Regions from separate parts of the Homo sapiens genome. Here all the other regions are linked to region 1. The links come from fine-mapping of genetic effects on plasma protein levels. A gene starts in region 1. Each other region holds a variant in brackets. All regions are shown on one strand. Distances are from middle to middle.

What was found. PIP is the chance, under the fine-mapping model, that this variant and not a neighbour inherited with it causes the effect. The UK Biobank Pharma Proteomics Project read protein levels with antibody pairs (Olink). The fine-mapping took linkage between variants from a reference panel, not from the people measured, so its PIPs are less certain.
Region 2: its variant is fine-mapped to the plasma level of the NOTCH2 protein (UK Biobank, PIP above 0.99).
Region 3: its variant is fine-mapped to the plasma level of the NOTCH2 protein (UK Biobank, PIP 0.93).
Region 4: its variant is fine-mapped to the plasma level of the NOTCH2 protein (UK Biobank, PIP above 0.99).
Region 5: its variant is fine-mapped to the plasma level of the NOTCH2 protein (UK Biobank, PIP above 0.99).
Region 6: its variant is fine-mapped to the plasma level of the NOTCH2 protein (UK Biobank, PIP 0.98).

Annotation. Positions count from the first base shown.
Region 1 is chr1:120,066,919-120,071,993 of GRCh38, forward strand. It overlaps NOTCH2 (notch receptor 2), which reads right to left and starts at 2,744. Exons shown (of 34, transcript NM_024408.4): 1 at 2,416-2,744. The coding sequence starts at 2,488. It overlaps LOC101929178 (a long non-coding RNA gene), which reads left to right and starts at 2,910. Exons shown (of 2, transcript XR_254374.4): 1 at 2,910-3,093.
Region 2 is chr1:119,892,489-119,897,563 of GRCh38, forward strand. It overlaps ADAM30 (ADAM metallopeptidase domain 30), which reads right to left and starts at 4,027. Exons shown (of 1, transcript NM_021794.4): 1 at 1,045-4,027. The coding sequence starts at 3,848. The coding sequence ends at 1,476. The variant G/A (reference allele first, on the strand shown) is at 2,607.
Region 3 is chr1:120,146,812-120,151,886 of GRCh38, forward strand. It overlaps SEC22B (SEC22 homolog B, vesicle trafficking protein), which reads right to left. Exons shown (of 5, transcript NM_004892.6): 5 at 4,087-5,075. Among named protein-coding and RNA genes, the nearest start is that of SEC22B, 27 kb to the right of the region's middle. The variant G/A (reference allele first, on the strand shown) is at 2,591.
Region 4 is chr1:120,127,683-120,132,757 of GRCh38, forward strand. No RefSeq gene overlaps it. Among named protein-coding and RNA genes, the nearest start is that of SEC22B, 46 kb to the right of the region's middle. The variant A/C (reference allele first, on the strand shown) is at 2,399.
Region 5 is chr1:120,111,065-120,116,139 of GRCh38, forward strand. No RefSeq gene overlaps it. Among named protein-coding and RNA genes, the nearest start is that of NOTCH2, 44 kb to the left of the region's middle. The variant G/A (reference allele first, on the strand shown) is at 2,595.
Region 6 is chr1:121,346,567-121,351,641 of GRCh38, forward strand. The region is part of intron 4 of SRGAP2C (SLIT-ROBO Rho GTPase activating protein 2C); the gene reads left to right. It overlaps LOC107985193 (a long non-coding RNA gene), which reads left to right and starts at 2,372. Exons shown (of 2, transcript XR_001738200.3): 1 at 2,372-2,458; 2 at 3,186-3,234. The variant A/G (reference allele first, on the strand shown) is at 2,802.

The DNA.
Region 1 (5,075 bases):
AGAGAAGAATTCAGCTGAGAAATTATCTAGCAGGCAGCAAAATCAGGGAGTCACTTCCCATTGCAAAGCAAAAGAAAACAAGGAGCAAGAGGATGGTCCTGGATAGCTGTTTAGACAATCAGACATACTGCTAACATCTCCTTGCCTTAGAAACTCCGTGATGTTTAAATTAACAATTGGCCACAAGCCAAACACAGGAACACTCAAAAGTTTAGAAGGGTGTGCTGCAACTGGTACCTTAGCAAAACACAATAATAAATTAAGAGGATTCAAGAAGCCTTCACTGTAGACTCTAAGAAGATTTAAGATTTGTACCGAGAAACGGCTTCTAAATCTCTTCTACTGCATTAGTTTAGCATCTAAAGAACACCTGTCTAAAAATCAAAATATCTAAATCCTATCCTTTGAGTCAACTTGACTAACACTCAACTTGACTACCTAAAAGCTAGCTAATAATCGCAGCACCTCAGCAGAGCAGAGGTGGAGGGCATAGTTTTATGCACTGAGATCCTATAATAAAAGAAGCCCTATGTGTCAGAGTAATCCCATTTCTGATATCATATTATTTAATACTTAATTTTTCAAATCACTTTACAATTATATTTATTATTCCCTACAATTCTCTAAAGCAGGTTATTCCTTTAGTCCTGCTTCATAGGTGAGGAGACTACATATCATGAAGATTAAGTTATTTACCAAAACAAGTTAATGATAGACCAAGGATTATTACCCTCAGACTGTCTCATTGATCATACTCCTCTCTATCCTAAAGCTACACTTAAAGCTTTCACTCAAAGAAAAAGGAAAAGCAAAAACACCATCATATATGCTCTTTATTAAATGCTTCAGAAACAACGGCTCTGCTTCATCACTACAAAGCCTCCTGGTCCACTTCTGAAATTCTTAGTGACCTAGACGTGTACGAAATTTGAACTTTCCAAGAAGTATCTAGTTGGTGCTGAACAACCCAGTACTATTTTCGGGTGATAAATAACCTTGTTCTCTTTTTAAACATCTGCGATTGACATGTCGACTGACTGTTAACAATGAACAAAGACCATATTTTTCTGAAGCTCATCATCTTCCTAACCTTTTCTTTGAAAACAGATGTAGTTCATGTACTAGTTTTTTGGTGAAGGTAAAAATCTTTATTCAGATTAGGCTCAGAAAAAGAAGGGGCTGCTTTCCGTTCAACAAATATGCACAAGACAGCATCCCACTGGGAGCATCAATCTCAGAAGCAGTAAAACACAGCCTCGGCCCTGAAAGGACTTTCTGAACACCTTTGGAGTGTCATCCGTTTAATATACATTATTTTAATTAATCCTATTAGCTGGATAATTTCTTTCCCATTTTATTGGTGAGTTCATATAGCAGAGCTGGATTTGAATCCAGGATTACAGAGCAGGGCTCCAAAGCCCAAGTTATTTCCACTAAAGGGTCTGAAGAAATGTAGAATCTAAAAGTGTGGGTGGGATGGGGAAGATATGATTTGATTCCCTTTCCTTGGTCCAACCGTGTTAGAAACATCCAACCATAAAGAAGCTTTCTAAGGAAGCCCTTTGAATTAACGTATCCACTTTTTCTCACCCGCCCGTGCCCCACCCCCAGCCATGCCAAAGGAGCAGCAAATGCTGCTGCCAGGTTGGAGGAATTGGTGATCGTCACACCACATTCCTGGGTCTGGACACAGCCTGAAACAGCAGCAGAGCTCCGCGCCTCGGAAAGAATAACAGCAGTTGAGATTTTTAAATCATGTGCCTCAGCATGCAGCCACACCAGTTGCCCTACTTCTCCTGCCTCCACCTTTCAAAGACGCGAGCAGCACACACGGCTCCCCCGGACTTTCGGTGGGGTTGGAGTGTCAAAACTCAGGCGCGCCGCAAAACCCCGTCCCCATCCAAACCAAGCCCACACACCCGGCCCATGTGCCGCCCCCTGGCAAAGGCGAGGCTGGCTGCGACGGTGCAGGCCGTTTGGCTTGGCGGCCCTGCCCCCGCTCTCCACGCCAGAATCTGGCATTCCTTCGCTCAGCCCCTCCGAGGCCCGCCGTCGGCTCTCGCTCGACCCCAAGAAACGCGGAACCTGAAGGGCAAAACTGCCCACCTCCCTGCACCCTGGCACTACGAAAAAGGAGTTTCTGAGACTTGCTGCCGGCCTCCCTCCTGCCGAGGAGGCGTGTAAGGGGTCCCGGGCCGCGGGGAGCAGAGGCGGCGGGGAACCCCGGCGGTTGGCGGGGCACCACGGGAGGGGCCCCCGGCGATGTCCAAACTCTTGGGAACCCAGCGAGTGGCCTCGCTCCGCGCCGGCGGCCGAGCCTGGCCTTCCCACACAGAGAAGGACCGAGGGGGAGAAGGGTCGCCCCAGGTGGCAGCCCCGGGCGCCGCGGACAGCGCCCCTCAGCCCGATACTCACCATGCGCGGGGGCCGCGCAGCACAGCCAGAGCGCCAGCAGCGCCCACAGCAGAGCGGGGCGCAGGGCGGGCATCTTCTCGGTCGCCTCCTCCTCCGCCGCCGCCGCCGCCGCCTGGGCAGATCCACATGGGGAGGGGGTCCCGATAGAGGAGCCCCACTCTCTCCTCCCCTCCTCCTGCTTCAAAGGCTCAGGCCCTGGCGCTACGCTCCGAAGCCCAGGCGCAAATGCCTCGACTCCCCGCGCCCCGAGTCCGCCGCTCCTCGGCCGCCGCCTCAGCCGCCGCCCGAAGTTTGGCTGAAACTTTCTCGGGTGTGCAACGAAGCAGCCTCGTGTGTCCTTCCGCCTCAGCCGCCTCCTCCCACCGCAAGCCCCGCCCCACTGTCGCCGCGGCCTCGGCCCCGCCGCCTTGGGCACCCAGGGGTTTCCCGCAGGAAGAAGCGCCGGCCCGAGCTCCGCGCGGAGGGATCTACTACGAGTCACTGGCCCCGTCCGCATCCTTCTCCAGCGGCCCCGGGGGCCGCCGCGCCTTAACTCGATCAGGGCTGCAGCGGCTCGCTGGCTTGACCAGTGCAGAAGGGGCGTGGGGGTGAGGGGGGTGGGGTAGGACTCTGAACTTCAAGCACTGGAGTTTGCCGGGATCGTGAACTTGCAGGGAGAGGCGGTCCTCATCCAGTGAGGTCTGTATCGCCACCTACACCCACACATCCACACACTGCTTTGCTAGCTAGAGGAATGCTCTGGAGTAGGACCAGTGCTGTCAAAGAAGGAAAGTGGGCCAAGGCGCCAAAGTCCATTAAAAAGGAATAGAGCCATCACGGAGTGGTGCTGCCCCATTCATTCATTCATTTGTTCATCCGTGTAGCGAATATTTCTTAAGTGCCTTACTTTGCGTAGCTGTGTGCTTGGCAGTGGGATGATACCAAAGATGCACAAGCAACTTTGAGTACCAAGACTTTGCCGCTGTGGGCTGGGGGATTCAGGGAAGGCTTTCCCAGAGGAGCTGGGATGAAAGCAGGATCTTGAAAGGTCAGTAAAATTTGTATAAGACAAGGAGACCAGCTAAGCTAAGGATATTCGTTGTAACACTGTAATAGCAAAACCTTGAAAACAACATAAATGCCCACCCTTAGAGGAATGGATGAATAATGTATGGTATATTTATAAAATGAAATGCAACACAGTAATTGAAAAGACTATAGCTATTTATGTCAATAGGGATAAATCTTAAAAACTAAATGATAGTGAAAAAACTAATCACAGAGGGAGACAAAGTATACCATTTATGTATATTTTTTTCAAGACAATACTACACATTATCTGTGGATGCATATATATAGATATAGATATTAAGAGACTATAACCAGAATAGTAGTTACTTCCAGGGCAGGAGAGTAGGGGGTGTGATCAAACCTGGGTACAAGTGGGCTTCTAAGAAAAGAGCTAAAAGTAAGAACAGCAACAATAGTTGTATGGACATATCATTCCAGGAAAGAGCCCTCGTGAAAGCAAAGGTACAGTCAAAAGAGTAAGTAAATGAGTTCTGTCTCTGTTAGCAGTGAGAGGAGTCAAGGACGGAAAGGGGGTTGGGACCAAATTATGCAGCCTTGAATGGCAAGCTGAAAGGGTGGGGAGGCAGCTACCTCTTAGGTCACATAAAACTATTGAAAGTTTTTGAACAGAGTTGAGATTGATGGAAAGGAAGATTGCTCTGATAATTCTGTAGAAAATTGATTGTTGGGGGAGCAAGAGGTGAACTGGAGCCCCAGGACCAGTCAAGAGTTGGTGAACAGTCCAGGCACAAATTTAAGAAGACCTGAACTAATAAGGTAGATTTCAGAAGGAATGAATCCGAGACAATGTTAAAGAAACAGAAAAAAAAAATGGAGGTGTGACTAATTGGATGTGGGAGTTTACAATCCTGTTGGGATGGGAAATCCTACCCATAGAACCTCTCCCTGACTCCTATAGGATAAAATTCAAACTTCTAAACATGGTACATACAAGGCCTTTTCGTCATTGGGCCCCATCTCCTGTCCTCCCTGCCCCTGTTGTGAACTTCACACAATAACAGTATTGACTAACTTGAGATTCCCCCAAACATATCTTGCTGTTTCTGTCCCTGTATCTTTTGTTCCTTTGGCTTGGAATGACTCCTGTAGTCCCCTTCCCTCCTCCTCTTAATGAACTTCTAATCATAATTCATCCTTCAGTCCAAAGAAGGCTTTGCCGACACCGCAATAAATTCCTCCCCCTAACAGACAGTCCCTCCACTGTCTTCCACTGCCGCTTCTTTATCTTAACACCGATACTTATTTTTCACACAGGACTCTTTGTATTTCTGTGTTCTCAACTAAGTTTTGAGGTCCTCATGGGCAAAGACCACAGCCTATTAATCCCCAGTGTCTATCACATAATAGATGTTGAACTAGAATGTGAAACAACACTAAGCAAGTACAAGTCAGTATGGGCATAGACCTATGAAGTTCCAAAACTGCATGTTAACAAGCACTTTAGGTAAGCAAGTACCATTAGTGAAAGTAGTCACATTGAAATACTGGAAACCCTTTTCAAAAATAATGTAGTCAAAATATTTTTGGAATTTGTCTTGTGCAAGTATGTTCAGAGAAAGATAACATTATTTTTCAGTTGTTTACCCACA
Region 2 (5,075 bases), 170 kb before region 1:
AATAATGACACCTATCTCATGGAGCTGTTGTCAGCAGTATGCATGTTAATAATACACATGTAGCTCTTAGAAGGCTGCTGGCACATATGCTGAGAAAAAACAGTCTGGGGACCAACCTTCCCTGTGAGACTGCCGCAAGTTCATCTTTCATTAGAAGTGTGACTAAGAAACAGGAGGCCGAGCGTGGTGGCTCACGCCTGTAATCCCAGCACTTTGGGAGGCCAAGGCAGGTGGATCATGAGGTTGGGAGATCGAGACCATCCTGGCTAACACGGTGAAACCCCGTCTATACTAAAAATACAAAAACTTAGCTGCGCGTGGTGGCGGGCACCTGTAGTCCCAGCTACTCAGGAGGCTGAGGCAGGAGAATGACGTGAACCCTGGAGGCAGAGTTTGTAGTGAGCTGAGATCGCACCACGGCACTCCAGCCTGGGCGAGAGAGCAAGACTCAGTCTCAAAAAAAAAAAAAAAAAAAAAAAAAAAAGAAACAGGAGATTGGGATGGGGCACTGCAGGCCTGCGGTGTTGCCTGAGGAGGGAGAGGAGCACTGAGGTAAGATGAGAGAAAAGCAGGAAGACCCAGCCTAGAGCAAGACCAAAAAACTTAGCCTGACACAAATCTGAGAGGGACAATCCCCCCTTGGATATAAGAAGTGGATACTGACTCCTGCCAAGGCACCCCTCAGTCCTCTCCTCCCACCAAAATCACTGTGCAAACGGGAAGGAAGATGTGGAGGCAGAGACACGGGGGTCCTTGAAAGGCGTTCCTCACTCCTCCTCTGTGCTACTTAGGAGAGTGGCAAACATAGGGCCAGGTGTCATTCAGCACACACGCACTCACAAAAGCTCTGCCTCTGCAAGCAGACACTGCAAACACAAAATTTTCTTAACAGCCTTGCCCCAGGACACTGCCAGGGCCTGGCATCATCTTGTCATCATTGCACTGTGGTGCAATGCAAGAGTTAGGACAGCTCAGCGTCATTAACCCACCTGAGATCACCCCAAATACTGAAAATGCTTATAGAATCATTTTCTATTCATAAAATGTGTTGTCGGCATTTATTGATCAGCATGGGTGCAGGTGCGGATGTTCACATGGATCAAGTTGAGGGAGGCAGAGGGAGAGGCAGACAATTGCTTTGTTCCCTGGGATTCTGAGAAACAAGACTATACCTTGAATAGCATGGTAATTCTAGGAAACTCACTACTTTCAGAGCTTTAGTGTATGGAAAAGCCATTAGAGCATGATTCTCAGAATACCCACAACTTGGTCACAAACTGAGGGGCAAGTGAACACTCGAGAAGTAGAATGCACTGGTTTGTTTCCAAAACAAGAATGCTGTTTATTTGCTGATCAAAACTTGTGGGAAAAATTAAAGTAAAAAAATATTGGGAGAAGAATGGAAAGCCTTTGGATAAATGATTAGCTGGTTAAATAAATGAGCCTGTGTTACTGAATGAGTATGGATTGCCCGGTTACTTTTTTTGTTTCTTGACACTCTTTGCTTTGGGTCGTTTACTTTCAATGTTTGCTTTAGATTCTTCCTGTCCAGTTTTTGCTTTAGATTCTTCCTGTCCAGTTTTTGCTTCAGATTCTTCCTGTCCAGTTTTTGTTTTAGATTCTTCCTGTACAGTTTTTGTTTTAGATTCTTCCTGTTCAGTTTTTGCTTTGGATAGTGGCATTTTTTCCTGTTTGGGTTTTAAGTGGTTTCCTATCACTTGCCGGAAAAACACAAAAACCACTGAAAGGATTAATAAAATAAGGCGAAACATTATGATGGACACAACCCAAATTGACGAGGGAATCGCCCCTCTGAGCAGTCCTGGAGGCCCACTGTCAATGCTTCCTCCATACCCCACTTCCTCACAGAATGGAGGTGCCCACCCATACATGCAGTGGCAGTTTTTTCTGTTGTTGCAAACACCCCGGGTATTGCATTTCTCAGGCAAACAGTCAAACTGCAGGACTGAGCTATTGACGCAATTTTTTTTAAAACATACCCGGCCTTCTCCACAGGAGGTGCCATCATTTATCATACCTAGGTCAGGTATTCCCATGGGTTTCATGGATAGATGATAGCCTGTGCCCCAGCACATGAGATTTTCTGCCTGTAAATGAGTAGAAATTATAGTCGTATGCTCTGGCAAATCAGGGATGGTTTCAACATTTATACACTGTAGCCTGCCACATATTGAATTTGCACTTTCACACTTTTTAAAATTTCGAATTCCTGTAATCTCACAGTTACCAAATTGATCACCTATTAAGTTAACTGCATCATAGCACTCACTAGGAGCCTCCATGGCATCAGGTCCAAAAATGCTTTGGCACTGCATATATCTGGATCTGCACCCCTTCCTGAAACAACGGCCTTCATACTTGCAAGGGGTTCCATCCTGCTTATAAACGTCATTTGGGCAGGAACTTGAATTCCCGTCGCAGTACTCTGCAAGGTCACATTCATTTCCTTCCTGCCTACACACGTATCCAGATGGACGAAACCGACAATCATGACAGCAAAGTCCAATGCTACAGTTGGCACCTGGTTGCAACTTACAATTTGATTGGCAACACCGATCTTTCTGACACTCCTCTGTGGAACCACA[G/A]TCACATTCCTCATTGTCCTCCACAATTTTGTTTCCACATCTCTTAAGCACATAACCTAGTCCTGGGATATTATTTAGACATGTTGCTCCCGAAGAGATATGTTTAAAAAAAGAGATATAACTGCAATTGCTAAACCCAGTGCGTCCTGAGCCCATGATGCAATTAAGCCTACCCCTACATTGGCAGTATTGTTCATCATGTGACATTCCTACAGCATGACCCAGCTCATGAGCAGACCAGGTAGCAGGGGCAAGGATATTTGTATCTAGTAAAGTACTCACTGATCCAGCATATTCTAGAGAACACACTTTTCCAAACGACCATGCAAGAGCATCATTATATTTTCTTTGAAGATATAAATGTGCCCAATCTGATGACAGGCGAGCATTTAATACACTTTTTTTATATATTACAAATCTGCCTAAAACTTCAGCTAACTCTGGATATCCAACGCGTATTTTGTTAAAATCTGTCCATACTTCAAGAGCCTTTAAGTGTATCCTCATACGAACATCTTGAAAGTAGGTGTCCATAATCCCAGTCAAAAGAATGGCATCATGTATGACTTGAGAAAGATTGTTGTTCACAAACCTATACCTACTTTGATCAAAGAGTAGGATCAATTCCAAGTACTTTGGGTGTTTATAGGATCCAGGAAAGTCCCTTAGCCTCGCCTTATTCTCATAAGGGGCCATCTGCCATTCTATTTCATCATCACTTAAGCCACAAACCTGATTCCCAAACTGCTCTTTCTTCAGGAGATAGACGACATGTTCAAAACTGGGAGAGGCCTTGAGGGGCTCAATTTGGTAATGTTTGGCATCAATGTTAAATACACCTCGGAGACCCCCCATGCATGTGCTTATAGTAGCTTTAGAGTCCAGAGACTCTTTCACGGAGCCCATGTAGTTGCAGTCCTTTGGTATGTAAGGATGATCCTCCAGCAGTTCCCCATGTTCTGTGAAGGAGAAAACGCGCAGATGTCGGGGCAACAGAAGTCTCTTGGGCCACAAATGGAGGACGTGCTTCTTGCCTTTTAACTGCAGTAGGTAGGACACGGGACTGACCACACCCTGCACCTCTCCCCGGAAGCTCAGCTTCTCAGGAATGGTGACTTCATACGAGTCAAACTCCCCTTCAGGGTGAAAAATTACATCTTCGCCAAGAGACTTAAGGAGCATTGTCGGAACTAGTAGAAGGAGCAAACGGCATTGGGAGAGGAAGATCTGCACTGACCTCATGGTCTGTTCCCTACTCAGCCTCAGTTTGCTATTCAGTCCCTGCAACTCTGGCCTCGCGAGTCAGATTTCTGGGGGCCGCCGCTAGAGGCGCCTGAGCTCAAAACCCGGCTCCCCTGGCAGGGTTTCCGGGGGAGCCCGTAGCCTCCCAGGGCTCGGTCTAGCTGGCGTCCGCAATGCGCGCGTGACCTGTCCAACGCATCCAGTTCGTTTTCCGGGCCGTACCGTTGGGCGCAGGTGGAAGAAAGGAGGGAAACGTGGGCGAGAATAAAAGAGAAAAGAGGGGCTGTTGGCACGTGGGTTGGAGAGAGGGTAGAGAACACCATCGGAAATGGAGAAGGAATAGAGAAATAGGAAGAACAAAGGAGAACGTGTTAAAGGCTCACTGTATCTTTGCCTTTACTCTGTGTCTTTACACCTTAGGACACAGGTTGGAATCCGATGTTTTATGGGCCACTGTCCTAACTTCATTGTTGGACATTTCCCAGTTTTCCACTAGGGTTGCTTGTGGCAAAAGAAAGGAGCATCAGAACCAGCAAGAGTGGAAACAGCCTGAAAGTATCAGCGTAGACTCCACACCCCCAGCCCCACTCTGGGCAGTTCCTCTGTCTTCGGCTGCGGCTTCTTTTTAGAGAAGGCCCTGAACCTTAGTTGTGGGCCCAGGCAACAGAAAGGTCCTGAGCTCATTTTGCCTGGGAGTGCTTTCTGCTGTTTGTCTTTGGGGTGCCAGGGGTCAGTGTAATTTTTGTGTGTCCATGTGCAATGGTGGGAAGAACCTAGAAAAAGTGCCTGTTATAAGAGCAAACCCAAGTGCTTTCTGAGAAAGGTAGATAGCTGGTTATGTTCCTAGTCGAGCGATGAGGCTGACTCCACAAAGGAAGAAGCCTCTGGCTCAGAAAATGGAAGGGTTTATCGTCCGTAAAAGGGCAAATCGGAAGGTCATGAGGTGATTCTGAGGGATTCTGATAAGAGAGGAATATTTTCAGTTTTGTTCCTGGGAGATTCCATCTGGCTGAATTACAAGGAAAGGTTAAAAAGGAACAGGCTTGAGTCAGGGAGACTAGTTAAAAGCTCTTGTACCAAGCAATGTTGTCTGTTGGCAGAAAGCATGGCCTTAGGGCTGATAATAAGCAGTACTTATGGAAGACTGGCTCGTTTCATGCTACACACCCCGCTATGCTCTGCATAAATCAGCCCATTAAATCTTCACCATGACCCTAGGTTATAGGT
Region 3 (5,075 bases), 80 kb after region 1:
CAATTTGAAAGTCAAAGTTCTTTTATTCTAAAGCTCTAAGTGTGCAAATAAACCCACTCTGTATATTTATGCAAATAGCTAAACAAAAGGCAGATAAATAGATATAATCTTCAGTCCATGTATTGGCCTAACTGCTTGTCCCTGCATGCCCAGTCCAACAAACCTCACTGCCTACCTACACAACCAGCAAGTAAAAAATTGGGAGTTTAGCAGGTACAAATTGCCATCAGTTGGTCAAAACTAAGCCGGTAAAACCAGTTTCTTGGGTATGGTAAAATATTTCTTACTTTATATGGCATATTGGTCAAGGTATTTATCACTGAACTGGAGTCACTTTTTCAAAAAATTAGTTAACAGATCTGAAATGCTCATTAAATATTGTCTCCACAACATAAAAGTAATCGTAAGCATAATGGTCAATTGGAAACATTCCCAGTCCAAGATTTGTTGCTATATTTGACTTCTGTGCTTTCTCCCCAAGTCTAATTTATCTCTATGCCTTAATTTCTCCTCCTTCTTTGCCTCCATACCTTTCAATTGTTTCTGCCACCAAAGAATCAATTTCACTTGCTGTATTTTTTTCCCTTCTCCAATGTGTTTACTATATGTTGATATAATTGTACTGGTTCTCTCTTTTGTTGCGACTTTTCAATGTGCCTTTCTTTTCCCATTTCATTACTAGACCTACACCGTTTTGCCCCACTTTTGTTTTCTTCTTTTATTCAAATTGTGTGTACCTATGATTCATGAAACCCAGTTCCAAAAAACTTATGCATACATCTCTGTAATTCAGTGAACTTATACCATGAATATTTGTTGCACACCTCCAATGTGTCAGCCACTGTACCCAATGCCAAGGATTCAAATTGAATAATAATTGATCTCTATCCCAGGCATCTCATAAGGCACATAGCCAAGGAGACAAACAAGTATGCACTGACAGCTAGTTTAAATTTGTAGGTTTTATAATAGAAATATGAACAAGTTATTGTGGGAGAATGAAAACACAGCTTCTCCCAGGTCAGAGAGTAGGGGGGTATGAGAATGTCAGAAAGGCTTTATGAAAGAGACATTTGAGCTGGGTCTTTGAAGGAAGAGCAGAACTTTACCAGGTGTCTTGTTTGTTTTGCTATATGCTTTATTTTACATTTTTAAAAAACTTTTCTTTAAGGTTTTGGTGTACAGATTATTTTGTTACCTGGTAATAAGCACAGTACCCAATAGGTAGTTTTTCTGTCCTCTCCCTCCTCCCACCCTCTACCGTTAAGTAGGCCTTGGTGTCTGTTGTTCCCTTGTGTACATGTGTACTCAATGTTTAGCTCCCGCTTATAAGTGAGAATATGCGGTATTTGGTTTTCTGTTCCTACATAATTTAGCTTGGGATAATTGCCTCCAGCTCCATCCATGTTGCTGCAAAGAACATAATCTTATTTTTTTATGGCTGTGTATATTCCACGGTGTACGTGTACCACATTTTCTTTATCCAGACTACCACTGATGGGCATTTAGGTTGATTCCATGTCTTTGCTATCGTGAATAGTGCTGCGATGAACATATGCGTGCATGTGTCTTTATGGCAGAACAATCTATATTCCTTTAGGTATATATCCAATAATGGGATTGCTGGGTCGAGTGGTAATTGTTTCAGGTTCTTTGAGAAATCACCAAAGTGCTTTGCACAACGGCTGAACTAATTTACATTCCCATTAGCAGTATATAAGTGTTCCATTTTCTCTGCAACCACGCCAGCATCTATTGCTTTTTGACTTTTTAATAGCCATTCTGATTGGTATGAGATGGTATCTCATTGTGGTTTAGATTTGCATTTCTCTAATTATTAGTGATGTGGAACATTTTTTCATATGCTTCTTGGCCACATGTATGTCTTTTTGAAAAATGTCTGTTCGTGTCATTTGCCCACTTTTTAATGAGGTTGTTTTTTGCTTATAAAGTTCCTTATAAATTCTGGATATTAGACTTCTCTAGGATGCATAGTTTGCAAATATTTTCTCTCATTCTGTAGGTTATCTGTTTACCGTGTTCACTGTTTTGTTTGTTTGTTTTTGGCTATGCTAAAGCTCTTTAATTAGATTCCATTTGTCAATTTTTGTTTTAGTTGCAATTGTTTTTGGCATCTTTGTTATGAAATCTTTGCCAGGTCCTATTCCAGAATAGTATTTCCCAGGCTACCTTCCACGGCTTTTATAGTTTTAGGTTTTATATCTAAGTCTTTACTTCATATGAGTTGATTTTTGTATATGGCAAAGGGAAGGGGTCCAGTTTCAATCTTATGCATATGGCTAGCCACTTATTTCAGCACCATTTATTGAATAGGGAGTCCTTTTCTCATTGCTTGTTTTTGTCAACTTTTTTCAAATATCAGATCATAGGTGTGCAGCATTATTTCTGGGCTCTTTTCTGTTCCATTGGTCTATGTGTCTGTTTTTGTACCAGTACCCTGCTGTTTTGGTTACCGAAGCCTTGTATTATAGTTGAAATTGGGTAGTGTAATGCCTTCAGCTTTGTTCATTTTGCTTAAGATTGTTATGGCTATTCAGGCTCTTTTTTAAGTTCCATATGAATTTTAAAA[G/A]TTTTTTTTTCTAATTCTGTGAAGTATGTCACTGGTAGTTTCATAGGAATAGCATTGAATCCATAAACTGCATTGGGAAGTACAGCCATTTTAACAACACTAATTCTTCCTATCCATGAGCATGGAATCTTTTTCCATTTGTTTGTGTCATCTCTGATTTGAGTAGTGTTGTAATTCTTTTTGTAGAGATCTTTCACCTCCCTTGTTATCTATATTTCTAGGTATTTTTGTGTGTGTATGGCTATTGTGAATGAGATTGCATTCTTGATTTTGACCCTCAGATTGAATGCTATTGGTGTATAGAAATGCCACTAATTTTTGTACATTAATTTTGTATCCTGAAACTTTGCTAATTGTTTATCAGATCAAAGAGCTTTTAGGCAAAGACTATGGGGTTTTCTACAGAATCATATTGTCTGCAGAGATAGTTTGACTTCCTCTTTTCCTTGGATGTCTTATATTTCTTTCTCTAACAGGTTATCTCTGACTAGGACTCTCAGTACTATGTTGAATAGGATTGGTGAGAGTGGGCATCTTTGTCTTATTCTGGTTCTCACAGGGAGTATTTCTAGCATTTGGCCCATTCAGTATGATGTTGGCTGTGGGCTTATCATAGATGGCTCTTATTTTGAAGTATGTTCCTCTAATGCCTAGTTTGCTGAGGGTTTTTAACATGAAGGGATGTTGAATTTTATTGAAAGCCCTTTCTGCATCTATTGAGATGACCATGTGGTTTTTGTTTTTAGTTGTTTATGTGATGAATCACATTTATTGATTTGCATATGTTGAACCAAACTTGCATCCCAGGGATAAAGCTTGCTTGATTGTGGTGGATTCGTTTTTGACATGCTGCTGGGCTTGGTTTGCTAGTCCAGCAAATTGAGTCATTGAGGATTTTTGCATCTATGTTCCTCAAAGTTATCCATATTCAGAACTCTATTTTTGTCATGTCAGCCTGGTTAAGAACCACTGTTGAGGAAATAGTGCAGTTGCTTGAAGGTAAGAAGGCACTCTGGCTTTTTGAGTTGCCGGAGTTCTTGTGCTGGTTCTCACCTGTGTGGTCTGATGTTGCTTCAACCTTTGAAGTTGCTGTTTCTTGGATAGGTTTTTCTGCTTTTGTCTTCTTTGATGCCCTTGGTGGTCTGAATATTGCATATAATGGGCTCAGCCAAGTGGCCTCATTTCTGGAAGACTGTAGGGGCCAAGGCTGAGCTCAGCACTCATGAGCTGTGTGTTCTAACTCTGAGGAGGCTGGTATTGGACCTCTGGCTTTGTTTTCTAGCCCCTCAAGGTTAGGAGCCTAGCAGGTGTCTTAAACTGTTTTCTGTTGCGATAATAGAATACCTGAGAGTGGGTAACTTATTAAAAAGAGTTTTATTTAGCACTTGGTTCTGTTGGCTGGGAAATTCAGGATCAGGCAGCTGTATCTGGTGGGTTCTCATGACTGCCTCATGCTGCATCAAAACATCGTAGAGAAACAGAAGGGGACCGAGTTTGTGCAAACAAAAAGCGCAAAATAGAAGAGGCAGCATTGTTTTATAACAACTCACTCTCTTGGGAACTAACCATTCCCAGGAGAACCCAGTCTCAGTGTCAAGAGAAAGATGTTAATCCATCTTAGCAACCTAATTACCTCTTAAAAGTACCATCTCCCAACACTATTACATTGGCAATTGAACTACAACATGAGTTTTGGAGGGGCCAAACAACATGCAAACCATAGCAGCAGGTTTAAAGGTAAAAGGATGGGAGAAAAGTACACAGAAAGATATTCTGGAGAAAAGGCACAGAGTGAGCCAAGGCACAAGGTAAAATGTTTGACTGGTTAGAGACGCTAGATTATTTTGTGTGGCTAAGACAAAACAAAGCTGGTGGGGAGTGGCAGGAGGTAAGTCTAGAATGGCACAATGGGGCCAGACTGCGAATGGCAAACAAGTATGTGATCTTTTATTCTAAAGAAAATGTAGTATGATTAGCACACACACACACAAAAATTATTGGCCGGGCGCAGTGGCCCATGCCTGTAATCCCAGCACTTTGGGAGGCCGAGGAGGGTGGATCATGAGGTCAGGAGTTCAAGACGGTGAAACTCCATCTCTACTAAAAATACAAAAATTAGCCAGGAGCTGTGGCAGGTGCCTGTAATCCCAGCTACTCAGTAGGCTGAGGCAGGAGAATCACTTGAACCCGGGAGGTGGAGGTTGCAGTGAGCTGAGATCGCGCCACTGCACTCTAGCCTCGGCGACAGAGCAAGACTAAAAATAAAAATGAAAAAATTATTATCCATGGTATTATCATGGTAGTACTGACTAAAAGAGGGACATGTGTAACAAAATCAGTAAGGAGGGTACTCCAAGAATCCATGTTAAAGTTAATGAGGGCTTGAACCCAAACATAAAGGATGGAAATGATGTAATAAAATACCTTTTGAAAGTTATATTAAAAAATTTTTGGTTAATAGTCTAGTTAGAGGTGAAAGAAGAAA
Region 4 (5,075 bases), 61 kb after region 1:
ATATCTCTGGAGGAATACATAAGAAACAAATCATTATTACTACCTCCAGAGAAGAAACTGGGAAAATAAGGGATCAACAAAGGGAAGGGGAGTTTTTTTCCCTTAAAAACATATGTGTGTGTATATATATATAATCTCCAAGTGCATGATTTTTAAAAAAATAATAGGTACATTAGTAAATGTTTTCGGTCGCAAGCAACAGAAACAATTTATAGTTAATCTAAGCAGTAAATGAATTTATTAAAAAATATTAGGTAGTTCACAAGCTCTCCAGGAGGACTAGAAACCCAGGTTTAGAGGCTACATAGCCAGAAGCAACACCTAAAATTGTACTGCAGAACAATATCATGAAGTCATCAATGCCCCCACTGCATGGAAACCACTGCTCGGTGAATGCCCCAAGCCTGGATGCTGGTCCCTGCTGCTAGAACCACCAGAACCACCACCACTGTAGCATCTAAAAAATGAGTGTTGTTATTACAACTAATGCCACTCCCTGCTGCAGAACAGATTCAGCAGTCTTTGCTATTTGAGGTCACTAGCTCCTGAGTCAAAAAGCAATGCAGATCCTTATGCCTATGCATACCTGTAAGGGAAGCTGGAAAAGAAGTATCTGACATTTTCAGCTTCTAAAGTAAAAGGTTGTCCTCTGTATCCCATCAAGGCCTATAAAGTGATGAATGCTTCAAATATAGAGCATTTAGATAACAGAGGTGGAGAGAGAGAGAGAGAGGAAAATAAGGAAGGAAGAAGGAGTTTCACATCAGTTTTCACTTTGCTTTGGGGGAAAGTATCCTGGATGCCATATGACATACTCACTTTCCTGTGTCTTTTGCATGTACTGTTGTTAAGAATCACAGGACTTCAGAGTAGAAAGTTCCCGATAGAGGATTTAGTTCAAAAGCATTGTTTTCTAGTTGAGAAAAACAAACTCAAGTAAAGTTTGGGAAAACTCAAGTTGCCCAAAATTACTCATAAGAGTTTCTGATTATGTGATTAGGTTCTCCCAGTCCAGGGCCCAATCCTCCATAGAATGTTCGGGTATTATTAGTACTTCAGCCAAGGCTCTAATGCAGTATCAAGATGCAGATTTGCTTCTGGTAGGGCTTCTTGAAGAAACTGGTGCTACTTATTATAAATATTATTAAACATTTGTATAGGACTTTAATGTTTATTTTTTAAAATTTTTATTTGTAAATAGTAAAATCATTTATTTTTAAAAAACAACAAAAATATAGGAGGATTTAAAGTAAATGGTAAAATTCATACCTTCATCTTGCTTTCCTACTCCCTAGGAATAATCAGTGTTGAAAGTATGCTGAGTATCTTTCAGTTCTTTTTCTATGTGTATGCACATATATTTGTAGGTATTTATAGACATACGCATACCACATATATAACCTTTCATATCTTGCTTTCCCACTCTACATGCATCATGGACATAACTGATACTTGAAGTGGATTCATGCCAGTAAGTTATTGCTAGGTTGGGAAGCACCGCATGGAGACATGGTGCCTGAGGAGAGGATGTCACAAACCATGAAAGGCTTGGTGGTAAGGTGATATTTTTGGTCCAGTGAGCTTCATGGTGTCACTTGAAGTATAAATTGCCTCAGGAAGAAAACATGGGCTGCTTCAAAACATGAAAGTAACCTCCAAAATCATCTAGCTCAACCTCATTTGTAGGTGAAGAACTATTTTTCCTGGGAGTGGGGGTGATTATGGACCTTGCCCAAGATCACCCAACCAGGACAGTGACAGAGTTGGGATTTCTTTCTTTCTCCAAGACCCTGGCTCATTGCATTGTGTTGCATTGCTTTCTGCAAGTTTCAGAGGAGAGAGAGGGCAGTGGTTAGTTTGAAAACACACATATGCTCAGATTACATTTGATTTCTCAGACTGTAGTGCTGGGGCTCCCTGCCTGACTGTGTCCATGAGTTCTTCCATGAAGTTTTACATTTAGCTTTTCTTTTGCCCACTATATGCCTTATTGACTACCATTAACCATCTCCTTGGGGACTATGAATCTTACTTTTCAGTCTTTTTATGGCAATTTGCACTCTTTACTAACACAGCTTTATTATTTGTTCAGGTCTTGGGAGAATATTGAGTAAGACATTATATCAGATGGATGACAAAAGGAGGGGAAAAGCAAGAAAGACCACCAAGTTTACATAGATACCAAATTTATTTAATCAGGGAGGAGTCATTTAGTGCCAATGAGGGAGGGGTAGAATACACATTAGAAAAAGACACATCTTCTGCCTGTAGGAGCTTACTTTCTAGAACAGTTACCTCTAGTCTCTTTTCTTCATACCACTCCATCAAAAAAAAAAGAAAGAAAGAAAAGAAAACCAGCATACATGCCTAATAATTGCATGTTTGCTATAAATTCCAT[A/C]CACTCTACTGTGACATTTTAATATTAGTAAAGCCTAATTTTCTTAATATTTTAGATTAAAAAATAAATAGAAGCAAGTATTCACATATGTTTTTCTCATACCTCTATGTACCATTTTGAGCACTTCACTTTGGAGTCCAGTTTCAACAGGAGAATCAGATGCACACCCAAAATACTAGAAAGCTTGGGAGTGTGAAGAGGGCTCTAATGTCAGGGTAAGCAAAATATTCTTAGGGCATCAAGGAAGCATTGCCAGAGGAAAGGAAAGCTGAGGATATTCAAGGACTTCTGACCTACTCCGTGGGCACAGCGTCTCTGGGCTTGGACAAGGGATTAGTGCCAGGCTTGATTTCCTTGGCTGGAATCTGTACATGAAGGCTGCACATGAAGAGCCTACCTCACCCCAGAAGCATCCATTTCCTGGCACCTCAAGCATATATGGGCTTAATAAATAACATGTCATTCCATGATGATAGGGACAGACATATTTGGCCCATAGCTTAGAGCCATCCCCAATTGTCTACACTCAATGGTGGGGCAGCAAGTACTGTGGATATGGAGCTGGGAGGCTGAGCTAAATCCTAGCTATCTTACTAACCAATTGTATGACTCTAGCCCTTAAACTCTCTGAGCTTTAATTTTCTCATCTGTAAAATGGGAATGATAAATGCCTTCCAGACCTATTTACAATTTCTAACATTTGTTGAGTTTTTCAATGTGCATTACATGTATCATCTCATGAAATCCTCATGACAAAATAATGAGGTGGAGCTATTATTGTTCCCCTTTTGCAAATGTGGAAACTAAGTTTTAGAGTAGGTAATCTGCCTACAAGTTTACACAGCTAGAATGTGCAGAGATGGGATTCTGAGGCTTGCTCAACTCTGAAGCAAATGTCCTACCCACTCTACTTGGCTGCTGACCATGAACACACTTCATGAACTCTGAAGTACGAACAAGGTACACAGAGTGTAAGATTTAGTCCTTGTCCTTAAGTCTAAATTCAAAATATGTTTATCTATAAAGCGTGTTTTTCTGTTTTTGTTTTTTTGAGATTGAGTCTCGCTCTGTCAGCCAGGCTGGAGTGCAGTGGCATGATCTCAGCTCACTGCAACATCCGCCTGCCGGGTTCAAGCAATTCTCTGCCTCAGCCTCCTGAGTAGCTGGGATTACAGGCGCCCGCCACCACACCCAGCTAATTTTTTTTTTGTTTTTATTTTTAGTAGAGATGGGGTTTCACCATATTGGCAAGGCTGGTCTTGAACTCCTGACATCATCATCCACTTACCTCAACCTCCCAAAGTGCTGGGATTACAGGTGTGAGCCACCATGCCCAGCCTATCTATAAAGTGTAAAAGTCCGACAAAGTAGGATTTGGTTAGAATGAAAAGGTGGAGAAAGAACTTCAATGTTAGTTTCCTTATCTTTAGTCCCTTACAACGGTATATGATTACTGGAAAGAGCACTTGGTTAGCAAGAAGAAAACCAGTTCTGTCCCATACTTGCTCTCAACTTTAGGCACTTCATTTAAGCTGTTTACTCATCTATTAGGGGTCCTAATGAATGAGCTCTAGAGGGTCTTTTTGCCTGACAATCCTCAAACTCCATTCTCAAAACTTCCTGCAATCGGGAGTCTCCCTCCCCTCCATGGAGAGGGCGGGACAGAGGCATGTAGACAGGGAGGCGATCCTCAGGTCAGCTAGGGCTTACTCAAACAAGGTCCTGTGGGGGCAACAGGGAGAGTGGATGGGGACTCAAGCCAGAGCCCTGGTGGGATGGGCCGGTAATTATAAGGAAACACTGCAGAGAAAGTTTCTGTTGTGGTTGTTCCCTTTGTTTACTTTAGGCAGTTCTGTCATTTTTTAACTGACCCTTCCCAGATGAGATAGTCAGTTTTCAGCTGGGTAAAGTCAGGGCCTTGCAACTGATGGGGTATTTGAATCCTCTGTGGCTCAGTTGCTGGAGGGAGGCCAGGGCAGCTGAAACTCCCCCGCCCTTTCAGGGAAGTGAAGCTGGGGCTACAAACTTGCTGACAGTGGCTGGTGGCCTGTAAACCCAAACATCCTCCTCTCCTCCGTCTCGGTGTAGCAATGTGAAAAAAACAAAGCCACGAGCTTTCCAGAGCAGGGGAAGGCTCTAGCCAGATTCCCTTCCAGCTACTCCCTCCTGCACTTCGGCCCACAGCCACATGGTACAAGGTTATAGTTACAGTTGAAAACTGCTGACGTCTACTTTTTGGTTGTTGTACAAATAATAATTAATAAAACACACACAAAAAAACACACTTTTCTTCATGGCTAAATATTCACATAGTTGATTCAAACCTAAATATGCATACTTGCTTTTCTTTTCCTGTTTTCTTAAGTTTGAATAATAGTCATGTAGCTGTTTAAGAATCAGACAGAAGGAAAACTCATCCGCTTAGTACTTTTCTTAAATTGTCCAGTTTCTTTTGGCCTCTGAATACCAGAGTCTTTTATGTGTAAGATTAGAAACATCTGGCCAGCATATCTGAGTAAGGCTGAGCTAAAGCGGGATGAAACTAGGTAGAATGGCCTGCCTTTCTGAATTATAGAATTTTAAGCATTGATGGGACTCAAACTTACTAAATTCTACCTCTTCATTTTGCAGATGAAAAGACAGTCCCAAGAGGTTAGGATTTGCTTAATGTCACACA
Region 5 (5,075 bases), 44 kb after region 1:
GTGAAGTGTTGGGAAGAGAGGTGAAGACAGAGAATAAGACAGGGGAGAAGGAACACATTCTATGTGAAGGTGCTGAGGGAAGATAGAACATTTGAGGAACCAAAAATGAATTGTACAGCTGCCTGTGGTACATAGCCTGGGCCTCACCCTCTCCCCTGAGCACTTGACAATGCACATAAGGTCCCTAAACACTTCTGCCTACTCACCCACCATAAAACCTGTCATGTTTGCTCTCCCTTTAAGGCTCTGTTTTTTTGCCTTCCATAATTGCGATCTCAACTGATAGTTTCCTAAGACAGATTTGGGGTCTGGAAACAGATTCTTAGCTGAATTCTACTACTTCACTGTGCAAACTTGAGGAAGTGAGGTATATCATCAGTAATATGGGCTAATAACTGTGCTAGTAGTAACATTTCATGATTGTTTACACTGCATCAGCTTCCAGTGCTAAGCACTTTTGTCTTTTATTGTATGATTCTCACAAATCCTCATAAGGTAGGTAATGCTTTTATCCCTTTCTCCCTTCTCAAAGGATTCTTAGGAAGCCTAGGTGTGACACTAATTATAGATGCACTTTGTAACCATTAAGGGTTAATGCAAAAAATGAAATATTATTGTGATGTTCAATAATAGTACCATGATGTTCAACAAGTACATATTTAATGAATAACTGCATTTGTTGAATGCCATGACAGTTGTGGGCTATAATTAAATGAGTCTCAAAATATTTTGTGTCTGTCTCCTGAACAAACCAAATAAAAAGCAATAGAAGGAATGAAAAACGTTGTCATCACCAATTTGCTAATTGTATGCCATGCCGGACCACAGAAGAGAGAATTCCACAGATGTGACCCTGAGCCTCCAAAGTTTACAGTCTGATGACCACCACTACCTGGAATGCAGATACAGATAACAGAGTGAAAGCTCAGTATCAGTTGATACAACACTGGGTTGTATCAAGCTCATTTCCTACCAAGGGTAAGGATCTTTCAGGAGACCGAATGAGCAGGAAAAAATTCATGAACTTCTTTTAAAATTCAAGGTGGGGGCTGAAGCCAGAAGGTTCTAAGTCTCTTAGTATTCTCCTTAGTACATGTCTCTTCACTTTCTATCACCTTATCACAGCGTTTTTTTCACCCAACCCCAATTCTGGGGAATTATTTATACATGATATATGCACTGTCATAATAATGACATATTCTTAAATTGTCAATTTCTGAAACCACGTATGTGTATCACAAACTAATATGAATGTGTGTGTGTGTGTGCGTGCACGCGCATATTTATGTGTGTGTGTATGAGTGGCTTCCTACACTTACACTCCCCTACTTGAAGAGAAGTGGTACCGGCTCCCCCTGAAATCAGCCAATGTGGGAGGAGTACTGACACCAAAAACAAAGGAAATGAAATAGGATAACTGTGGTTTGAGGCTCACAGGTCAGATGAGAGGCAATGAATGAGAAAGTCAATGAGCTGAAAATGACTTAAGTACAGGCACCTCCTAGGAATTATACCCCTAATAAATGATTGTATTGAACATTTGTTTAAACTGATGTAAAGTACTTTGAAGGTTAACATCCTTTCCCTCCCTCACAATATTAAGTAGTGTAGCTTGGAGGTTGAAAGCAGATTCTGGGTTCAAATCCAGGTTCTGTCAGATTCTACCACTTACCAGCTAAATGACGTTGGACAAGTCACAATATCTCTAAGCCCTTATTTCTTTACTTGTAATGTGGGAGTACAATCTGCCCCCATGAAGCTCTTAAAAGGATACAGAAAAATAAAATGTGACAAACGTCTTGCATTCAAATGACTACTTGATGGTATTTTATAGGTGACAAAATAGATGCCCAGAGAAGTTAATCTCCTTTCTTGGGTCCCCCCGAGTGTTAACAGCAGTGCAGGGAAGGAGTCAAGCATCCTGTCTCTGGCCCATGGCTTTTTTATCCATGTGGAGCACCAGTCCCACACAGAAATCATGTTTAGGCTACAAGTGATTTTTCATATATATCTTCTTTAATTTGCATTTGTCTGCCAAATCCACACATTAGCAAGCTCAAAACTCCAATGGAAAGGCGTATATAGGATCTTCTGGAAAATTAGATCTGGAATGACCCTAGCAGACCCAAAGAACTATGTGTGAGAAAAAACACAATACCCTGTTACACCCCCTTCAATTGTGGGCAGGTAGATTATTTACTTTGTGGGTTGATGTAACACAATTTTTAATCCCATGTTGGCTACGCTCTGCCACTTCCCCCCACCGTTAGTGGGTGTGTGCTCAGGCAGTGTAAACTCAGGAAGGTAATGCAAAACCAGGAAAGTAAATCTGCTTCTTATACCTCTCACCCCACATCAGCCTCCTCCTCTCTTTTTACTTCATTCTCTTCAGCTTTAAAAAAACAGAGGTAAATGTATTTTCAGTTGTCTTTGGCACAGCCCTGTTTTGGAAATCATAGACAGCCAGCTGGACCAGGAGTCAGGAAGCCAGGGGCTCTCATCTGGATCTGACATTGGTTAACTGTGGGCCTTCAGGAAAGTTAGATCAGTCCTCCAGGCTTTTGTTCCTTTTCTGTACAATGAAAAGAAGACTA[G/A]AGTATTTATGAAGTGCTTACTGTGCACCATGTGACATCAATTGTATTACTTTATTTAATCCATAAGAGAAAGAACTCTACTAGCTAGGAATATAGATCTGTAGTATTCAAATTTAAAAATGCTCAAGTTGCCCAAGGCCACAGAGGTGGCAAAGAGGAAGCTGAGTTGGACTTTGAACCTAGGACCATCAGATTCCAAATTTTATGCTTGAATGAGTTATCCAGTACAATCTATAATTTTCTTTTCTGTTCTAATATTATGCTGTTATGTGAGCACCACTCATCAATATTTAGTTGGCTTAGTTTATTACAGTGAGTCATTCTTCCATGCCTTGGGGTCTTACTCTATATAGGCAGAAGCCCTGACTAAATTTACTACATCCCTTATTTAGTCAGCTAATACATTAGTTGTACACTCTGATATTGTAAGTAGTGGTTTTATTGCCATTAGTGAAAATTAGTGAGCCACCAGGTGTGGTGGCTCACATCTGTAATCCCAGAACTATGTGAGGCCGAGGCAGGAGGATCACTTGAGCCAAGAGTTCGAGACCATCCTGGGCAACATGGTAAGACCCCATCTCTACAAAAAAATACAGAAATTAGCTGGATGTGGTGGTGCATGCTTGTAGTCCCAGCTACTTGGGAGGCTGAGGTGGGAGCATCACTTGAGCCCAGCAGACTGAGGTTGCAGTGAGCCAAGATCCATGCCACTGCACTCTGGCCTGAGTGACAGTGCCAGACCCTGCCTTAAAATACATACATACATACATATATACATAAAGTAATGCTTGCCTTCATCTGATATGCTTCTTCCAATAAGAAAAAACTTTTCTTGGAAACTCTTCCCCTATCCTTCTTTGGAAACTTTACATAATTGACTTTACCTTCTATTATTTAGATTGTTTATTGACAAACCAAAATTATTTGATGTGTATGTCTAACCCATATAGAATCAGGGCATAATATGAAGGGTACTTGGTTCCTGCAAGGGTGTTTGCACAGGAATACTGGACATGAGACTACCAGCTATTCAGCATTACAGTGGAGATTTGTCCTCTTATTGTCAGGTGCCTCTCAAGTTGGACTCACATAAGAACTAAATATGTCTCAGCTATAACTTCACTACATAATGGTTGGAAGAGGAGTGCACTGGAGTGCACCCCACTCTGTGGAGGAGAGACAGGAATACTTAATATTTCTTCTGTAGTCAACCAGGTATATCATTGAGCCTAATTCTTCACATTGCAGTTATATTCTCTAAAAGTAAATATGATGCTTATTTTAGTTGCTATTGCATCCTTAGGCTAGCCCAGTGCCTAGCACATAGTAGGTGCTCAATAAATATGTGTTAAGGCCGGGCGCAGTGGCTCACTCCTATAGTCCCAGCACTTTCACACAAGGTCAGGAGATTGAGACCATCCTGGCTAACACGGTGAAACGCCATCTCTACTAAAAATACAAAAAATTAGCTAGGCATGGTGGCGGGTGCCTGTAGTCCCAGCTACTGGGGAGGCTGAGGCAGGAGAATGGCGTGAACCCAGGGGAGGCAAAGCTTACAGTGAGCCGAGATCGTGCCACTGCACTCCAGCCTGGGCGACAGAGCGAGACTCCGTCTCAAATAAAGAAATAAATAAATATGTGTTAAATAAATGAACAGGACAAGACAAACCAATAGGGAAGATAATTAGGAGCACCTGGACCTGGGTTAAATGTTGGTTAGCAATTTCAATCTGCCTAAATCTTGTGATATGAGCTCCTTAAGAGCAATGACTCTTTTACTCATCTTTGTATTCCCTAGGATTTAGCCTTCATAATAGGGGCTCAAAAATTTCCATGGGATTAAATCATCTTATAGTAAAATTATTTTAGAAGATAACATAGTGGAGGGATGCGAGAAATTCAAGTGATTTGAGAGTGATAATGATAAGGACGATAACAATCACATAATCATACAAGGTAACAGTGGAAGACAAGAGTGCTCTTTGAAAGGAGTGATGCTGTTGTTGGTGAAACTGGATCAGAAGTTGTCCAGGTAGGGGTTGTGATGTCCTCTTTCTGCTGTTTCCGTGAGTGCCAAAAGTAGAGTCAATTTATATTGATACTTTAGAGAAAGTGATTCCCTAACATTCCTCTCAGTTTTGCCCTCATCATCCCCTAATAGCCCTAAGGCCAAAATACCATAGTTATCACTGATCAGTTGTTGATTTTCCCCTCTGTTCTCATACAGAGTCACTTCCTTGGTACATGAGACCTAAGATGAATTCCAACATCTTCCCTTCCTGGACCCAGTACTGCATCCCTCTTTCTCTCCAATGACAGCATCTCTCCAAAGGGTGGAAGGCATTTTCACTGCACCCAGGACTCCTTTCACTGCCCCATCCTCTTAAAGACAGCCATGCTCAGTGATCCCAAGCTGATTTTCTGTTATATACTGTGATGCCATAACTGATTACTTCTTCTATTAAAGAAAATAAAGATATA
Region 6 (5,075 bases), 1.3 Mb after region 1:
CCAGGTCAATGGCCTACTTGACCTAGGCGAGAGAAGAAAGAGTTAAGGATAGGGAGTTGAGCTTTTTGCTCCAAAATCTATAGAGGGTACACCCCTCTTATATTCTGGAGTCTTACTGGGTTTCTGAAAATGCCCTTGTGGGTCATGAAACAATAGCCCTTTGAATATTTTTCTGCCGCTGCTGATGTGAGCTGATTAAACTGGCAGGCAGATGATGGAAGGAATAGTTACATGTCCCAGGCGGGAGGTCATGACAGTTGGATCTGTGGTTGACAGAAGAATTTCAACACACATTCAAATCAGCTCCTAAGATAGATTGTCTGAGTTCCCTGGGCCTGCCTCATGCCCTCCTCAAATGCATTTGACTCCTTCTGGCCCATAATACTCACACTTCAAATGTTTGGCTTGGTGTCCACAAATCAACTCAGGGCCGGGGTAGGGGTACTGATGAGCAGTGATGCCCTCTTTGGGAGCTACCACAGCATAGGAAATGAACATTAGACCAGGAATCAGGTAACCTGGTTGGGGACCCAGGGCTCTAGATGGTTTATTTTTTTATTTTCCTTATTGGTTAAATTCCCTACCGCAGTTTTGACATTCTCTTCTGGATACTGACTGTGGTCTAGAGAAACAGCTAAGGAAGGCAAATCTGAATTAAAATCTGGTTCTTGGGAAAGAACTGAAGTTTTCAGATTTTGCAAAATTATGGAGAGTGCAGACTAGGAGAAAAAGGACAGGCATAGTTGTGACAAGGAGCTATTTTTTCTAGTTCTGCATTCTAGAAACAGTACTGATGAGTCCAAAAATATAGAGATAAAATTTTGTCTTTTTTCTTGCTTTAAAAAAAAATGCTTCTAAATGTCTACATACTTGCCTAAGAAAATATTTCTCAACTCCTCCAGAATATTTAGGGTTAACTAAAAATTATAAAAACATACCACAGAGCTAGTCCACTCTTTATGCCTAGGGTTTACCCAAAAGGTCTGCATGCTCTGGCTTGGAGACCCTGACCCCATCTCAACTTGCTGGTTTTAAGTCTACATATTTGGCTGCAAAGCCCTAATGCCAGGAGGAATGCAGAACTGACGAGTCCACCCCATCTACAAGCTAGAAGGACATCTTGATTAAATTAGTGTCAAGGGCTGTGGAGAGAAAGGCACAGTGACACAAAGGGTGTTTTGAGGAGCCCTGTAGCGCCTGTGGAGAATGAATGTTCTCGTTAAATATGGCCGTGACCTGCAGCTCCACACATGCCAGAGACACAGCTCAATTGTCCCCAGGATTTGGGGGGTGGGGACGATCATGGGGAGAGGACAGCCTGGCATGGAAAGGCAGGAATGCAGGAAGGCCTGTTGTTGTTTTCTTTTTGCGATAACTACAGCAAGCAATTCTTTGATCATGGTCCTTGTGTTTGGAAGGGATCAAGAAGCGATTTCCTTTCCCCTGGGTGTTTGAACCTTTGCTCTGCTCCTTGCTTCTCTGGGTATTAAGGGGACTCCTGAAAGCCCCCATTGTCTTCAGCCTCTTTCCACCCCCTTCCTTGGGGCTCCCCAAGAAGACTGTTGCCTGAACTCTGTAGGGCAAGAATGAGAAGCAGTGCCCCCAAGACAGTGCCTACCCTTGTCATTTACCCACCATCCTCATCTCATTTATCCTTAAGTCCCAAGACCAAAGCAAAGAACACATGGGCTGTTGAAGGCTTCCACAGGACTGCCCTGGTCAGTGGGAAAGCAGTAATGCTTTCTAGCTGGGTAACCCCTTGGCTGAGTTCCATCTGCACTGTGGCCAGGGTGCGTGGTGAGACATGCTTTTGCCATTTGCCCTTTGAACTGCCAACAATCCCAATGTAGCAAATGGATTTAAAGCTGATTGAGTTTTAGATTTCTTTCCTTTAACCAGAATATTCTAGCAGCTTATTTTTATAGTTCTGCTTGTATGATTCTCTTTTTAACAGATGGAATCACAACCTTTTCTGCAGTATATATCTGATGAATTTAAAAACTGATACATCAAGAATATTCTTTTGTATATGTCTTTCTTGCTGTGAAAATTTATGGCCTTTCTTCCCCCTGTCTTTGCTCTGTAATTATTAGGTGCTTACTATATGCAAGGCATTGTATAAGATTAGGAGAATACAGATAAGACAAAATAGCATTGAAGGAGTTTATGAGTTCAATTCCAACTTCACCAATTAATAGTTGTTCTCATGGACAAATTTTTTGACCTCTCTAAGCTTTAGCGTCTGTAAGTACTAAGTGCTTTTTGTGCAGAGAGATGTAGAGAGGTGAAATTTGAGCTGGGTTTTTAGTGAATGAAAATGATTTCAGTAATTAAAGATGAAAAAGTACGGAGTTTGTGAGCATGGAGGGGGAGCTGGAGTCAAAGGATATTCCATATGGAAGAACAGGCTTCAGGATGAAGGAGAGCACCGGAATGTGTGAGGACTCTTCAGAGGGTGGTGAGTAAAAATAGTTTGGCTAAATCAGAGTGTTAATGAGGAGAGCAGCTTGAAACAAAGCCGAAAAGAGCCTCGAATGCCAAACTTGGAGTTTGAACTTCATTCTGAGAGCACTAGGGAACGATGGAAGACCTACTCATAGGGAAATGATAAAATATTGCTGCTATTTCCAAAAGACTGGGCCTCTAATTCCAGGACAGGGTAATAAGAGCCTGAGATGTGGTAGCAGTGACAGGAGGAATGAAAAGAAGGAGACAGATGCCAGACATATCATGAAGGAGAAATGAACAGCGTATGGCCACTTATTGGAAAGAGAATTCGAAGTCAGTGATTACTTCTTTCA[A/G]TTTTTTTATGCTAGTGCCACTTAGGAAAAGCCAGTGTGCTGTTACAGAATTTGAGGTGGCTGGTGAAGCTGACATTTTCACATATGTCTCAGGAACTAGATGCCCAAATCTTTCTCAGACCCCAGATGGCCCCATATAGAGCTTTTATACGTGCCAATTTTTAGAATTTCTTGTAGAGTTCCTCCATTTGGTGGTCACCAGAGGATCTCTGAGATTAGTATCTGGATTCTTAATCATTCAGCTAATTTCAGAGATGTCCTTTATTTGAGGTAGATTTAACCTCCTTTTTCTGTTTGATGGAGTGTGGTTTTTGAAAAGTCCCTAAGGAAGTAATGTGAAACCATACTTGAAACCTCAGGCTTGCTTCTCTCTTGTTTTACCAGAATGCTTTGGTTACCACGTCCTGGGAAATGAACAACTTAAAACGTAAGTGTGGCAAGCCTTCACTATCACCAGTATCTGTTCATTGTATCAAACAAAGCATATTTCCATTCTTATTAGGTTTCCAGAATTGCACTGGGCCTGGTGAGGGCTACAAATAAACATAAGATAATCTGTTTTCAAAATTTAAACTTAGAGTTGTGCTTCTAGAAATGGAAGCTTTTCTAGAAGAAAATTCAGACCAATCCTTTTGCTTCATGGGAGCTGCTTTCCTTGAAGAGGCTTCTGCCATTTTAGAAAATATTACTGAGTGTCAAAAAGCTGAGCAGAGTGTTTAATAGACTTGTAGGGCTAGCAGGACAAATATGGAAATTTAAGGCCCAGAGGCCCAGGATGGGTAGCCTTGGTAAAATTCCCCAGGCTTTGAGACACCAAAGGGATACAATTAAGAAGGAAAGATAAGCCAGAAATAGACTAAGGCAGTTTCATAGAGACTGAAGCCTGGATTCAAATTATCTTAACCTCTAATTGGATTAAGGTGATTTAGGATAGCCAGTGGCTAGAAACAAATTTAAATCCTCTCTAGAGGAAGATACTGTGGAAGATACTATCATCCTAGACCTAATATATCTCTCATCATTTTTCATTATTATGTTTGGCACTCAGTTATAAATAATTAGGCCTATGAGGAAATAAGAACTGTGACCAAAAGCTAAGAGAAACAGCTAGACACACAGGAGATCCTAGTAATGGTGTTAACAGATGCAAACTTTAAATTAACTATGTTTAATATGTTTATGAGATTAAATTATAAAAACAAACCTGGAAATAATAAAAAAAAATAACTCAAAATGGATCAAAGGCATAAATGCAAAAGCCAAAACTATAAAACTCTTAGAAGAAAATATAGGTGTAAGTCTTCATGATCTTGGATTAGGCAATGATTTCTTACATATGACACCAAAGCACAAGCAACAAAAGAAAAAATAAATAAATTGAACTTCATCAAAGTCAGAAACCTCTGTGTTTGAGAGGACACTGTCAAGAAAATGAAAAGACAGCTATAGAATGAGAAAAGGTATTTTCAAATCATATATCTCATCAAGGTCTAATTTTCAGAATATATAAAGAATTCTTACAACTCAGCAACAAAAAGATGACCAGTCCAGTTTAAAAATGGGCAAAAGACTTGAATAGGCATTTCTCCACAGAAGATACACAAATGGCCAACAAGCACATTTTTGACACTGTTATTTATTGGGCTACTGCAAATCAAAACCACAATGAAACACCACTTCACACCCACTAGGATAGCTATAATTTTAAAAAGGAAGAAAGAAAAGGAAAGAAGAGTTTTGGAGAGGGTATGGAGGAATCAGAACCCTCATACATTGCTGGTGAGATTGTGAAATGGTGCAGATGCTATGGAAAACTGAAAATTCCTCCAAAACTTAAGCATAGAATTAACCTGTGACCCATCAATTCCACATCTAGGTGTATACCCAAGAGAATTGAAAACATATGCTCACACAAGAACTTATACACAAATGTTCATAACAGCATTATTCAAAATAACCAGGCTGGGCACGGTGGCTCACGCCTGTAATCCTAGCACTTTGGGAGGCTGAGGTGGGCAGATCACGAGGTCCGGAGATCGAGACCATCCTGGCTAACATGGTGAAACCCTGCCTCTACTAAAAATACAAAAAAATTGGCCAGGCGTGATGGCAGGCACCTGTGGTCCCAGCTACTGGGGAAGCTGAGGCAGGAGAATGGCGTGAACCCAGGAGGCGGAGCTTGCAGTGAGCAGAGATCGCGCCACTGCACTCCAGCCTGGGCGACAGAGCGAGACTCCATCTCAAAATAAATAAATAAATAAATAAATAAATAAA